2 linked regions of the Homo sapiens genome follow. The protein of the gene in region 1 interacts with the protein of each later gene in a biochemical or structural test. Each region holds a gene or a part of one and is shown in the gene's direction. Other genes may lie near its edges.

The links.
Region 2: the proteins of SMAD4 (region 1) and SKI form a complex in vitro, tested with the Homo sapiens proteins (3 studies listed by BioGRID and IntAct, with this or other methods).

What each region holds. Positions count from the first base shown.
Region 1 is NC_000018.10:51,033,194-51,040,220, forward strand, and holds part of SMAD4 (mothers against decapentaplegic homolog 4), read left to right. Parts: intron 1-7,027. UniProt on the Homo sapiens protein: In muscle physiology, plays a central role in the balance between atrophy and hypertrophy. When recruited by MSTN, promotes atrophy response via phosphorylated SMAD2/4.
Region 2 is NC_000001.11:2,301,298-2,308,324, forward strand, and holds part of SKI (ski oncogene), read left to right. Parts: intron 1-1,680; coding exon 1,681-1,806; intron 1,807-1,987; coding exon 1,988-2,103; intron 2,104-2,542; coding exon 2,543-2,805; coding exon of another isoform or gene 2,806-2,811; intron 2,812-2,995; coding exon 2,996-3,288; intron 3,289-4,722; coding exon 4,723-4,953; intron 4,954-5,279; coding exon 5,280-5,468; 3' UTR 5,469-7,027. UniProt on the Homo sapiens protein: May play a role in terminal differentiation of skeletal muscle cells but not in the determination of cells to the myogenic lineage. Functions as a repressor of TGF-beta signaling.

The sequences.
Region 1 (7,027 bases):
TTTTTTTTTTTTTTGAGATGGAGGCTCGCTCTGTTGTCCAGGCTGGAGTGCAGAGGCGCGATCTCCACTCACTGCAAACCCCGCCTTCCGGGTTCAAGCGATTCTCCTGCGTCAGCCTCCTGAGTAGCTGGGATTACAGGCATGTGCCACCACGCTTGGCTAATTTTTGTGTTTTTAGTAGAGACGAGGTTTCGCCATGTTGGCCAGACTGGTCTTGAACAACTGACCTCAGGTGATCCGCCCGCCTTGGCCTCCCAAAGTGCTGGGATTACAGGCGTGAGCCACTGCGCCTGTCCTATAACAGCATTTAATACAGTTTTGTAAAATTATCACATTTTGGGCTTTTTGTTCAACAGTTGATGAAGTCTCAATTGTTTTAAAATGAGAAATTCAAACAGTTCACAAATATATCTAGATATATTCATTTGAGCTACTTGTAGAATGATGCTGTTTGCATATATCAAGCATATGCTTGATCATAAGTCAGATTTAGAATTTTTGGATTTTGTTTTCTCTTTCTAAAATGTGTAATTTTGGTAATGGGAAATTTGACTGAATTCCAGTTTCTCAGGAACAAGGTATTTTAGGTTGTGTCACCTTAACACTATTACCTGGTGTAATTGGCATCCGGGAACATTTGTTTTTAACTATGAGAGTGAATGAAAACTAGGGTAGTGCTTACATATGTAAAACTAAGATGGTAGGTAGTCGGATTCTTACAATTTATAAGGTTCTCATAATCTAAGCCTTGATGAGTTGCTACTGCAAATTATATTATAGATCAGATAAGTACCAAAGACCAGTTGTAAAGAGGGTCTGTTAACATTTTAATCAGTTTAAAATTGGCGGTAACAGTAAAGACCGTTCAGCCCAAAGACTGTATTTCATTATTTATATTCCAAATGAGAATTTTTTGCAGTTTGGAAAACTTGTAAATGTGTTGAATTCATCTTTTTATTGCTTTTTTACTCCCAATGTTTAGGGCAACGGTCTTTTCTTCTCTCCTGTCTCCCTCCCTCCCTCCCTTTCTCCCTTTTTCTTCTTTTTCTTCTTTTTCTTTTTTTTTTTCTGAGACGGAGTTTCGCTCTTGTCACCCAGGCTAGAGTGCAATGGTACGATTTCGGCTCACTGCAACCTCCACTTGCTGGGTTCAAGCGATTCCCCTGCCTCAGCCTCCCGAGTAGCTGAGATTACAGGCGTGCGCCACCATGCCAAGCTAATTTTTTTGTATTATTAGTAGAGGACGGGGTTTCACCATTTTGGGCAAGGCTAGTCTTGAACTCCTGACCTCAGGTGATCCACCCGCCTCAGCCTCCCAAGGTGCTGGGATTATAGGCATGAGCCACCGCGCCCAGCCTTTTTTTCCTTTTTCTTTCCATCTTGCTCAGTGCCCCAGCCTGGAGTACAGTGCTGCAATCATAGCTCACTGCAGCCTCTACCACCCAGGCTCAAGCAATCCCACTTCAGCTGCTGCGGTAGCTGGGACTACAGGCACACACCATCACACCTGTCTAATTTTTTGAAAAATTTTTGTAGAGATGGGGGTCTCTCTCTGTTGCCCAGGCTGGTCTTGAACTCTTGGGTTCAAGTGATCGTCCCACCTCGACCTCCCAAAGTGCTGGGATTAAAGGCATGAGCCACCACGCCTGGCAAGTAGTTTTCAATCTTGGCTGTACTTTTAGATCCCTTGAGGAGCTTTACAAAATACTGATACCTGAATTCTAGCCCCAGAAATTATGATTTGGTTGGTCTAGGGTGCAGCCAGGTTAGCCCTCCGCAGTGATTGAGTCATTAGGGTCCTCTGACTTTTTCTTTTGAACTGTTTCACTTGTGTTAGCTTTACATTCTTTAATACAGTGTTACACACATGTACAGTGTAGCCATCTCACACATCTAACTTAACGGGTCTTTTGAAAGTATTGCCACATTTGCTTTGCTTCTGTGTCTGTCTCTTTCTTTTCTCTCCCCCTTCCTGTCACCTATTCCTTTCTCCTCTGTTTCTTTCTTCACTTTCAGTTTATTTGAACTGTCTGGTAGTAAGTTTTAGGAAGCTGTATTTCCCATGATGAGAAGTTAGTATATCATCACTATTTTAAATAGGAAGTTGATTTTCTTTTAAAGTATATTCTCAAATGCTTACTTGTACTCCTTTTGGAGACTAATTACTTTAAGTCCCCAAGTTAGCATCTGAACTCCCTGTGGGCTTGGTCTGGTGGCTCACATCTATAATCTCAGCACTTCAGGAGGCTAAGGCAAGAGGATCACTTGAGCCCAGGATTTCAAGGCCAGCCTGGGCAACAAAGTGAGACCTCATCTCTAAAATAAATAAATAAATAAATAAATATAACTCCCAATGCAAATTGTCTTCTTAGGGCGTTAATCTACTTGGTAAACCTTACATTTTCAAGCCCCCAATTAACTAGTCACTTAACTGGTTTCTGAGAGGCAGGTTGCATTGGGCTTTTTCTGTCAGGGCTTAATTAATACACTGTGAGACATTTGCTCAGCTAGGCCAGCTAGCTAGTACTTCTGTAGAGATCATCTAGGGCATGTTCAGCTCTCCATTTACATCACCTGAAGTAGTTCCCAAGTGCTGGGCTATGGAGTAGTTTCATCTCTGTCTCTGGAAGAGCTATTTAAAAAAATAAAAATATTTTTTCCCATCTGATTGCAACACACATGCTGCTTCAGAATGGGAATGGAGTGGAGGAGGCATGGGAATCTGTGTTATTTTTAAAAAGTGCCTCTTGATTCTAAAGGTTTTGTTTATTTTGGTATGCTTATCCTTACTGCTTTATTTATCTATTTTTTAGAGACAGGTTGCCCAGGATGGAGTGCAGTAACATCATCATAGCCCTCTATAACCTTCAACTTCTGGGTTCAAGAGATCTTGCCTCAGCCTCCAGAGTAGCTAGGACTACAGGCCGGCACCACCACGCCTGGCTGATTTTTTTAAAACTGTTTTGTAGAAATGGGGGGGCGGGGGTCTTGCTTTGTTGCCCAGGCTAGCCAAATCTTATTTATGATTTAAAACTAGGAATGCTACCGAATATATATTTTTATAGTAAGGTATTATTTCTGTATGTTAATATGGATGAATGTATGCTACTCAGGTCTTTTCAAGTCAAAATGTATTTCTAAATATAAGATGAATTAAGGATATTTGTCAGTGATATTCACTAGTGAATTCTAGAGCATATGTTATCAGTAGATGGGCAGTCCTTGTAAAAATTGAATAATCTAGTGAAAGGATGACCGGAAATAATATTTAATGGGGTAAGCTAAGCCAGGAATCATTGTACATAAACACATTAGGTGTGTCTTACATCATAAATATGCCTACTAAAACTAGTTGAAGGAAGAATGTGTATAGATGCTGAAATAATGAAGGGGCTGGCTAATTGTAAGGAAAAATGATACAACTTCTATATAATTAGTCTTTTTAATCAGTTGCATATACTCATGATACTTAATTTGTAAAGTAAAGATTGTAGACTAGATCAATGCTTTGTAAAACTAACAGTACCTCAGACTTCCAGAGTGTTTTTTAAAGGTACAGCCCCACCCTTGATTCTAGTTAGTGGAGCTGGCCTAACCTGCGGGGGATTTTGATACATCCCCCTTTGAAGGAATAAGCTAGATGACTTGAAACTCTGCTTCAGTTAAAAGTTTTATGAAATGAGGCCGGGTGCGGTGACTCACGCCTGTAATCTCAGCACTTTGGGAGGCCAAGGGGGGTGCGGATTACCTGAGGTCAGGAGTTTGAGACCAGCCTGACCAACATGGTGAAACCCCGTCTCTACTAAAAATACAAAAATTCATTGGGCATGGTGGCACATGCCTGTAATCCCAGCTACTCACATGCCTGTAATCCCAGCTTCTTGGGAGGCTGAGGCAAGAGAATTGCTTGAGCCTGGGAGACAGAGGTTGCAGTGAGCTGAGATTGTGCCACTGCACTCCAGCCTAGCTGACAGAGCGAGACTGTCTCAAAAAAACAAAAAAAGTTTTATAAAATGTATTTTTCAGTTATCAGTTATTAAAATTCAGTTTGGTTTCCACCATCTTTTAAAACAGTGGTTCCCAAAGTATGGTCCACAGACTCCTGGAGATCCCTAGGATCCTTATATTTAAGGGGTTCACAAAATCAAAATTATTTTCATAATGAAACTGAGACGTTATTTGCCCTTTCACTGTGAGGACATTTGTATGGGTGGTGAAGGAGCAGTGGTGGGTAAACTGCTGGCACTTTAAAATGACTCTAGGCAGTTATACCAAACATATGAGTCCTCATTGTGTTCTTTATAGTCAAACACACATAAGCATTTGAAAAAATGCCGGTTTCACTTAATAATCCCCTTGCTGCAGCAGTAAAAAGGTTTAATTTTAAAAAAATCTCTACCTTGGAGTATGTCTTTTTAATAGTGTGATTAAATGGGAAGTATGCATAAAGCATTTCTGCACATTGAAGTACAGTGTTCTTTTCTAGGAAAAGCACTTGTGTTATTGAGCTGCAAGCTGAACTAGCTGCTTTTTAGTGGGACACCATTTTTATTTTTATTTAACAGGATGACAGATAAGCTCAGATAGCTATTTAGATTTGAGTATTTGGCAGGTAATTCCTTGGAAATGAATAAAGTGAGCTGGCCACTTCGAGGAGAACATTTATAGCCAGTGCTAAAATCTGATGTTTCAAGTGAAAATCAGATTTTTGGGAAACTCCTGTCACTATGACTTGCCAGTTTCTTAATACTTAAAGACTTTTCTGATGAGATGGGTGGTGATATTAAGGAATGTGATTAAAAAAAATATGTTGGGCTGGGCACGATGATGCACACCCATATTTCTAGCACTGTGGGAGGCGGAGGTGGGAGAATTGCTTTTGGCCAAGAGTTCGAGACCCTGTTTCTACAATAACATATAAAAATTAGGTGTAGTGGCATGTAGTTCTAGCTGCTCAGGAGGGTGAGGTGAGAAGATTGCTTCAGCCAGGGAGTTCAAGGCTGGATTAAGCTAGGATCGCACCACTGCACTCGGGCCTAGGCTACAGAGCGAGACTGTGGGGGGGGGGGCAGTATGAGGAAGTGTGTCAACACTGGGAAGATCTGTGTAACTCATTGAACCAATATTTTCCCAAATGACCAATTCATGTTACAAAATCGTGCATGGGTAGGCGATCCGTTCAAAGTACAACATAGACAAATGGATTTTTATATACACCAGAGCCAAAAAGTTCACTGATACAGTGAATTCCACATTGCAACTAACCTTTCAGAATTGCCACTTGAGTTTTGGTGTTGAATAAAAGATGAATATCCATTGTTTTCTGAGAAGGCTGTTAAAATACTCCTCTCTTCCAATTAGCTGTCCATGTGAGACACGTTTTCTTCATGTACTTTAAACAAAACAACATATCATAGCAGATTGAATGCAGAAGCAGATATGGGAATCCAGCTGTCTCCTATTAAGCTAGGCATTAAGAGAAATTTGTGAAGATGTAAAACAGTGTTACTCTGATTCCTGACTTTGTTTTAGAAAATTCTGTTTTTCATAAGATGTTTATATTAACGTAATGGGTTTATTATTTTAAATGAATTAATAAAGCAAATACCAAAAATTTTAGTAGTTTTATTTATTTATAATATGATAAATATCAATGTATATAGCCCGCATAAAAGCTATTTGGTGTCTTTAATAATGAAGAGTATAAATAAAGGTCCAACTTGGCCAACATGACGAAACCCTTTCTCTACTAAACATACAAAAATTAGCTGGGCATGGTGGTACATGTCTGTAATCCCAGCTACTTGGGAGGCTGAGGCACGAGAATCACTTGAACCTGGGAGGCGGAGGTTGCAGAGAGCTGAGAACATGCCTCTGCAGTCCAGCCTGGGCAACAGACTGAGACTATGTCTCAGAAAAAGAATATGAATAAAGGGATCCTGAGATCAGAGAGTTTGACAGCTGCTGTTTTAAAGTAACTATTTCTATGCATTATCGACTAAATTACTGATTGATTGAATTGTTTTTATGGTTTGTACTATATTGCTGTTATTTCTAAGGACGTTAGTCATTCAGTTTCTGTTCAGTTATCAGGGAACATGTAAGAGTCAGACTTAAGTAAAAAGGGGAATTCATTGGCTTGGTCTGGAGATAGAGCTGACCTCAGATTGCTATATCCAGGGTTTCAAGCAGCATCACCAGGACTCTTGACTTTGCTTTCTTTCTGTTTCTCAGGTAGTTTGCAGGCTAACTATCCCCAGCTTCAAGGAAGCATGAAGAGGGCCTTCCCCCCCCCACCCCCCCACCCCCCCACCCCCCGTAGTTCCATCGGAAGTGCTAGAGCTATGTCACTTGCCTGCCTTGCGTTCTTTTTCATCAGAAACAACACTGTGGCCAGGGGGTGGCTCTGGTTAGTCTGGGAATTGTCCCACCTGGCCAGATGGGGAGATTCTCCTTGGAAAATCAGACTGCTGTTTTACAAATGGAGAAATACATGCTGGTACACAAAAACTGATGTCCACCTATAGTACTTTGTTATTTCTTCTTTTAACAGCCTTTAATTTATTAATCCAAAAAGGGTAATTTTTAAATAAGATCATTTAAACTGAAGGTGGCATACCAAAATGACATTTAAGACACATAGGTAAACAAGAAGCATACATCTCGATTTGTCCTTTGTCATTCATCTTAAAAGTTAAAAAAAAACTTTTTGTTGCTTTTATTGCTGTATAAATGTGCTCTTGGAAGTTCGCCAACTGCCCTCAGTTTGAAGAACCTCAACTTGCTGTCTAGGATTTAGTCTTTAGCTTGTGCTGCAGACAGTTGCACTAACCGTGAACACCTTTTTTTCCTGTTGGTAAACCTAAGTTTAGAGTTTATTCCTAGTAATAACATTGATATATTACCAGGCCCAGCTTTTTTCTCCTCCCCTAGTTAAATTTAAGCACTTTTGCGCCGGGCATGGTGGCTCATACCTGTAATCCAGCACTTTGGGAGGCCAAGGCGGGCAGATCATGAGGTCAGGAGA
Region 2 (7,027 bases), on another chromosome or scaffold:
TAGAGGGGGTATTTTCAGTGTCTTTTTTCCTGAACAGCTATTTTAGTGTCTCTGAAAAAAACCATCCACAGCCGTGAGCCTTCAGGGGCTGCCTGCCCTGCGTCCCCGGCCCTGTGCGCCCGAGCACTTATCTTTCTCCCTTGGGCCCAGGTCAGAGCCAGGCACCTGCCCCTCCCCTGGCCCCACCCTGCTTGTTCCCTGAGGGCTGCAGGGTGGGTGCACGTGCTGCAGGGGAGGCCACGGGCTTTGGCCAGATCTTCCCCCAGGGCCCTCCATCCCCATAATTGGAGCACCTTGATGGACAGCCTGCCCTGCGCCCCATCTTCCCCCTAGGGAAGCAGGGTCCCTGCTGCCTCCAGGAGGCTGGTTCCTGATGCAGCGTCTTCTCCTAGAGTCCTGGAGGTGGGAAGAGCCCCCGGCCCTGAGTGTGCTCTGTCCACCAAGGCTTCCTGGCTGAGGGCAAGGGCGGAGCCCCCACCGCCCGACTTTGCTGCCTCCTCTTGAGGTTGGCCTCGGCAGAGTGAGTGGGACCTCACCCCTGTGAAGGGCCCCTTGCCCTGTGTGGCCTGTTCTGCATTGGCCTGTGGTGTAGACCTGGTGCCAGCTGCCCTGGAGACTCTGTGCTGTCCTGTGGGGTCTTTGGCAGTAGAGGAATGGCCCATTTTACGGAGACTGCCCTGTGATTTTGCTTGGGAAGAGACCTTGGGTCTCAGTTGTGCCTTGCGGGCAGCACCGTCTCAGGGGTTTCCAGCCGCAGGGCTGTGGGAGTTCACGTTTGCCTGAGGCTGGATGTACCGGCTCAGGCCCCCAGCACACAACCCACATCACTCACTGGCTCTTGGGGGATGTGCCTCAGCACCTGACACACAACACCTGGTTCTGAGTGGGCTGGGTCCAGGCACCTTCGCTAAGCTTCCTCCACCAGCGGGACCTGGTTCTGGGTGGGCTGGGTCTGGGCACCTTCGCTAAGCTTCCTCCAGCACCGGGGCTGGCAAGGAGCGAGGCAAAGGTGTGTGTGGTGCCATCCTGTAGGAGCCAGGCTCCTTGGGGATGGTGTCCTTCATTTTGAAAATGTTTCCTTCCCATGGGGAGGGGGCAGCCAGAATGCCCACTCTTTAATGCACCTGTGCCAGTGGCCCACAGGGACACGGTGTCCCCTCCCCGCGACCACCCCTGTGCCGCAGCTGCCCTTCCCAGACGCATCCGTCGTGAGTGGCTCTCGCCGTGCTGTGGCTGGTTGAGCTGAGTGCCCAGCGCTGGGCACCCTCTGAGGACACACTCGGGTTCTAGGAAAGGGGTTTGGCAGGAGAAGGACGAGGGACTCCTGGCCAGGCTGAGCCGCTGTGGAAGGGGAGAGTGGGTCTTGGTGCTCCATCCCAAACCTGCTGCAGCCGTGGGTGAGGTCACCCGGAATGGCAGGACAAGGTCCACTCTGTTCTCTCGGAGATGACTTGTCCCTCAGCACAGCCTCCACGTGCCTGTTGCGCGTGGCCTAAGGGCCTTTATGCAAAGTGAACTTGGTCTCCTGGGGGGTGCCCTGGAATCTGCCTTCTGCGCCACTCAGGGTCGTTTGTGGCCGGAGTGCATGGGGCTCTGACTGCCATGTGCCAGCCACGGGGCTGGTGGAGGGACCCTGCCCTGGGAACCACAGGTGCCAACAAAACCTTTCATTGATCGCAGGTCTCCTCTGAGCCTCCGGCCTCCATAAGACCCAAAACAGATGACACCTCTTCCCAGTCCCCCGCGCCTTCCGAAAAGGACAAGCCGTCCAGCTGGCTGCGGACCTTGGCCGGCTCTTCCAATAAGGTGCTGTGGGGCCTGTCGGGGTCCTTGGGGTGGTGGGTACTGGGCCCTTCTCCTTGGGCAGACCCAGCGGCTGGCAGCTCCACCTGCCCGCTACTGAGGGCTGGCACCCGGCGCAGCCTCAGGGACATGAAGTGGCTTGTTTTTCTCCTGGTCACTCACACAGACAACTCTTTCTCGACAGAGCCTGGGCTGTGTTCACCCTCGCCAGCGCCTCTCTGCTTTCCGACCCTGGTCCCCCGCAGTGTCAGCGAGTGAGAAAGAGCTCTCCCCACACCTCCCGGCCCTCATCCGAGACAGGTGAGTGGGCGCCATTCACAGGTGTTTCTGATCACGGGGGAGGCTCCACGAGGGCTGTGCATGCGGACGCGCCCATGTTTCTGCAGGCTGGGTGCCCAGACCTGCCGCCTTTTGGTCAGGGCAGTCTCGGTGTTGGTTCCTTTGGCTGGCATCAGGGAGAGCACACCTAGAGCGTTCCCTGTGTTCTGGGTGGAGTCGTGGGTGGAGCCCTGTCTGCTGGGCGCAGCTTCTTGATGTGTTGGCCTGTGTCTGGCCTTCGCAAGAGACCCAGCAAGCAGAAAACGCTTACGGGTTCTTAGGGAACTGTAAGCTTGACTTGAAGATTCGGAGCTGGGAAAGTCTTTCCTGTTTAACACCTTCAGAGGGGGTGTGCGCCAGGATGTGTCTGGGTGGTGCTTGGGGACAGAGGCACCTTCCCGACACCCGCCTGCCCCTCCAGCTTCTACTCCTACAAGAGCTTTGAGACAGCCGTGGCGCCCAACGTGGCCCTCGCACCGCCGGCCCAGCAGAAGGTTGTGAGCAGCCCTCCGTGTGCCGCCGCCGTCTCCCGGGCCCCCGAGCCTCTCGCCACTTGCACCCAGCCTCGGAAGCGGAAGCTGACTGTGGACACCCCAGGAGCCCCAGAGACGCTGGCGCCCGTGGCTGCCCCAGAGGAGGACAAGGACTCGGAGGCGGAGGTGGAAGTTGAAAGCAGGGAGGAATGTACGTGTGAGTCGCTTTCTGTGCCTCCTCCCTGTGGGCTGTGGGGGTGGCACTGGCTGAGGGGGGCTGGTCGCCGGGGGTGCGTTGGTGGCCCCATGTTTCGCAGGTTCCTCCGGGAGCGGCGCGTCTCCCTGGTGTGGAGCTGCCGGGCACTTCCATGACTTTGTTTCTGTCTCTGCTTCCTCCTCAGTCACCTCCTCCTTGTCCTCGCTCTCTTCCCCGTCCTTTACCTCATCCAGCTCCGCCAAGGACCTGGGCTCCCCGGGTGCGCGTGCCCTGCCCTCGGCCGTCCCTGATGCTGCGGCCCCTGCCGACGCCCCCAGTGGGCTGGAGGCGGAGCTGGAGCACCTGCGGCAGGCACTGGAGGGCGGCCTGGACACCAAGGAAGCCAAAGAGAAGTTCCTGCATGAGGTGGTCAAGATGCGCGTGAAGCAGGAGGAGAAGCTCAGCGCAGCCCTGCAGGCCAAGCGCAGCCTCCACCAGGTGAGCGGGGCGAGTGGTGCTGGGAGGTCCAGGGCACGGGCAGTGAGCACAGCCTGCACCAGGTGAACGGGCACAGGTGGTGCCTCCTCCCTTCCTGGCTGCCCCATGCGCTCCTCTCTGCCTCCACCTCAGTGGGCCTGCCTGGGACCTTGGGGGTCCGTCTCCCAAAAGCTGCAGCCCTGGGTATGGTGAGCCCCTCAGTGTCCCCAGGCTGATGGACATCCCAGGAGGCCACTACATTTGGCTTGACCACAGCTTTCCCCATCAGGATCACACACCCTGCGTGGTGGCCCCACTGAGGAAGTAGCCATGTTTCTCTGGTATAAGGGAGGCCGGGCTATTTTTAGTGGCAGAAAGAGTTGGGAGCAGCTGCATGGAGACAGTTCCTTGCTCTGTGTGCTCCAGGAGTGGGTGTTCACGCGCTCCGCCAGCAAGACCTGGCGTCTGCAAAACACAGGCGTGAGGGGCGTGCTTACTAATGCCTGGTGTTCCAGAAGGCGGCTCCCGCCAGGCCTCCCGAGTAGGAAGGAGAGGGCTCGGCCCGCACAGACACACACACACCCACCTGCACACGCTGCTTCTCTGGGCTCTGCCTCACGGTTCTCACGCTGCAGCTCCGGTCTCGCGCCTCCTTTTACGTTGTTTAGGTTTCTTTCTGACATGACTGAGGGAAGTGCGGTTCACAGGCAGAGCTGCCTGGGGAGAGAGGTGTGCAGGCGGCCCGTTGTTCACCGGGCCCCGGCCTCGCTAAATTCACACCTCGGCGGCGTCTGGCAGCTTCCGCGGCGTGGGCTTTAGCACAACACAACCCCGTCGGCCCTCAGAGCTGCAGGGTTGCCGACGTGCCCTCCTGCGCGTGCCAGTCCCTCGCCCCAGCACGTCCCCCGCCACTGTTGTCCTTGATTCTGGTTGGAGGTGTGATTTCCCACATACATATTCATGTGGTGTGTTTGCAGCGTGGGGTGTGAGTCACACGGATATTTTAATGGGGAGAGTGGGGGGGCTTGCGGAGGCGCCGGGCGGATGGACGTGTCCATCTGGCTGCGTGGGGAGACCCGGGGCCCTCAGATGGTGCGATGTCTGAGGCTGCCCTCCTCACATTGATGGGAGCCAGGGCCTACTTGGCTTGCTGCCCCCAAGGGGAACGTGGCCCTAGATACCGGGGGAGGCCCCGCCGCAGCCTCAAGTGACTGACTCAGGCCCCCAGGTTTAGCACAGCTGCCACAGGCCTGGCGGAAACTCCGGATGGGGGTCTGAAAAGCCTTTGTGGGGTCGGGGCACCACACGGGTTGGGCTGATGGCGCGCTGGGGGCGGGGCTCCAGGGCACATTGTCAGATAGATGACCCCACGGGGTGGGCTGAGGACTGCTGGTCATGGTGAGGGGTGTGCTGGGACCGGCTGGGCAGTGACCCCGAGCCGCCTCCGGCCCCCAGGAGCTGGAGTTCCTACGCGTGGCCAAGAAGGAGAAGCTGCGGGAGGCCACGGAGGCCAAGCGTAACCTGCGGAAGGAGATCGAGCGTCTCCGCGCCGAGAACGAGAAGAAGATGAAAGAGGCCAACGAGTCACGGCTGCGCCTGAAGCGGGAGCTGGAGCAGGCGCGGCAGGCCCGGGTGTGCGACAAGGGCTGCGAGGCGGGCCGCCTGCGCGCCAAGTACTCGGCCCAGGTATGCGGGTGGGGAGACTGAGGCACGCAGCACGGTGGGCGTGGAGCCGCCGTGGGCCCCGGTGGCCAGTCCTGCCCAGCCGGAAAGGCCTTGGAGCAGAAGCCAGGCCCGGGACCACGTTCCGTGCGTGCCCCCCCGACGGGCACAGGGTGGGTGGTTGCTGGGCCCTGCGTCTCGTGAGCCTGTGTCCTAGCAGGTGGAGGAGGGGCCGGCACGCGGCACTGGGGAGGGACAGGGAGCGGCGCAGGAGCCTCGGGTGGGGGAAGCAGCGTCGGGCCGGGGCAGGGCAGCGAGCAGGCGCCGCTGACCACTCGGCTCCCTTTCAGATCGAAGACCTGCAGGTGAAGCTGCAGCACGCGGAGGCGGACCGGGAGCAGCTGCGGGCCGACCTGCTGCGGGAGCGCGAGGCCCGGGAGCACCTGGAGAAGGTGGTGAAGGAGCTGCAGGAACAGCTGTGGCCGCGGGCCCGCCCCGAGGCTGCGGGCAGCGAGGGCGCTGCGGAGCTGGAGCCGTAGATTCCGTGCCTGCCGCCGCAGCGCCGCCGACAACGCGGGTGCAGGGGGGCGCGGCTGGGCGGTGCAGCTCCGCCCGGCTCCGCCCCTGCAGCCCACACAGCACAACGTCTTACCGTGCCTATTACCAAGCGAGTGTTTGTAACCATGTAGTTTTGGAACCCACTGCAAAATTTTCTACTGGCCAAGTTCAAGTGAGTAAGCCGCGTCCCCCAACTACAGCTGGAGACGGGGCCAGCTCGGCGGCCTGCTGGTCCTCTGCTTGCTGGAACATTCTAACATTTACACTTTTGTTATAAGCTATTTAAAACCAGTAAGGAGACTTGAAATTCAGAAAATCAACACATTTTTAAATGACTAACTTCTAAAAGCCCCAACACATGACGCCATCTGAAGACCCGCAACGGAGTGGGGGTGGCGGCCGCCCCACCCTCCCCACCCGGGGAAGCCATCACAGCTCATCTGCCCGCGGCTGCGTGAGGACAGCAGGGGTTTTTCTTCAGAGTCTATTTTTTCAGCGACAAGGACCCAGGTCTTCCTGCTGCTGCCAGGGAGAGCAGGGACAGTGCCGCGTGCGAGATGAGCTCGAACACTGCCCGCCTTACTGCCGCCTACCCCGCCCGCCACGCCGCCGTCGATGCCAGCGCTGTCCCCACGGGTACCAGGAAGTGCAGAGCCGCACAGGAGCTGCCCCGGAGCTGAGGGGACGGTCTTCGGCTCCTCTGCACCCCGTGATTCTGCCCACGCTCCTCCACCACGAGGCACTGACCTGCGTCGGGTGGTGACCGTGGCTGGCGGTCACGCCCTCAGCCCCTCCGGGCACACGTGCCGCCTGACCGGGCGACCCTTTTCAGTTCGGCAAACGTCGCTCCCTTCATTTTGGGACTGAGGCTGCAGCATTGGAACAAAAGAGCATTATTTCAATTTTTCTTTCTTTTTTTTTGTTCGTTCATTTAAACGTATATTTAGAACTGCACTTTGTCCACAACCTTCCCTTCTCTTTCTATTCCCCAGTGAACTGAGGTTTTTACCGATTTATAGAGCAGTCAAATCCGAAGTGCTCGAGTGCTTAGAAACCCCCTCTGGTGCTTGGTTGAACAAGGGAATCACAAGAAAACGAAAATGCAAAAACTGAACTTCGGGGGTCGTTCTGTGCCTTCCAGCATCTTGTACAGCAAATCCTGACTCGTGTCTTTTTACCCCCAAGATATCTGTCTTCAGTAGCGACTGAATCTGCCACTCTCAGAATAAGTTCCTTGCATTTATTCCAAATAATCTCGTTTACTCTCACCTGTTTATGCAAATTGTATAAGGTTTCTTATGCCCAAGCTTGAAAAATGATTTCCCAGTAGACAAGAGGCGGCTACCTATCCTACAGTTACGGTATTTATTTACATAAGAAGATCTTACAGGAGTTCTTTGCTTGAATCCGTTCTAACACCCGCGGCAGCTGCACGCGCTCACAGAAGGTGGAGGTTACTTGCCCAGGTACAGACGACCTCGGGGCAGTGACGAGCAAAGACCAGAGACTGCTGAGCCCTCGCATCTGGGTGGCGGAATTG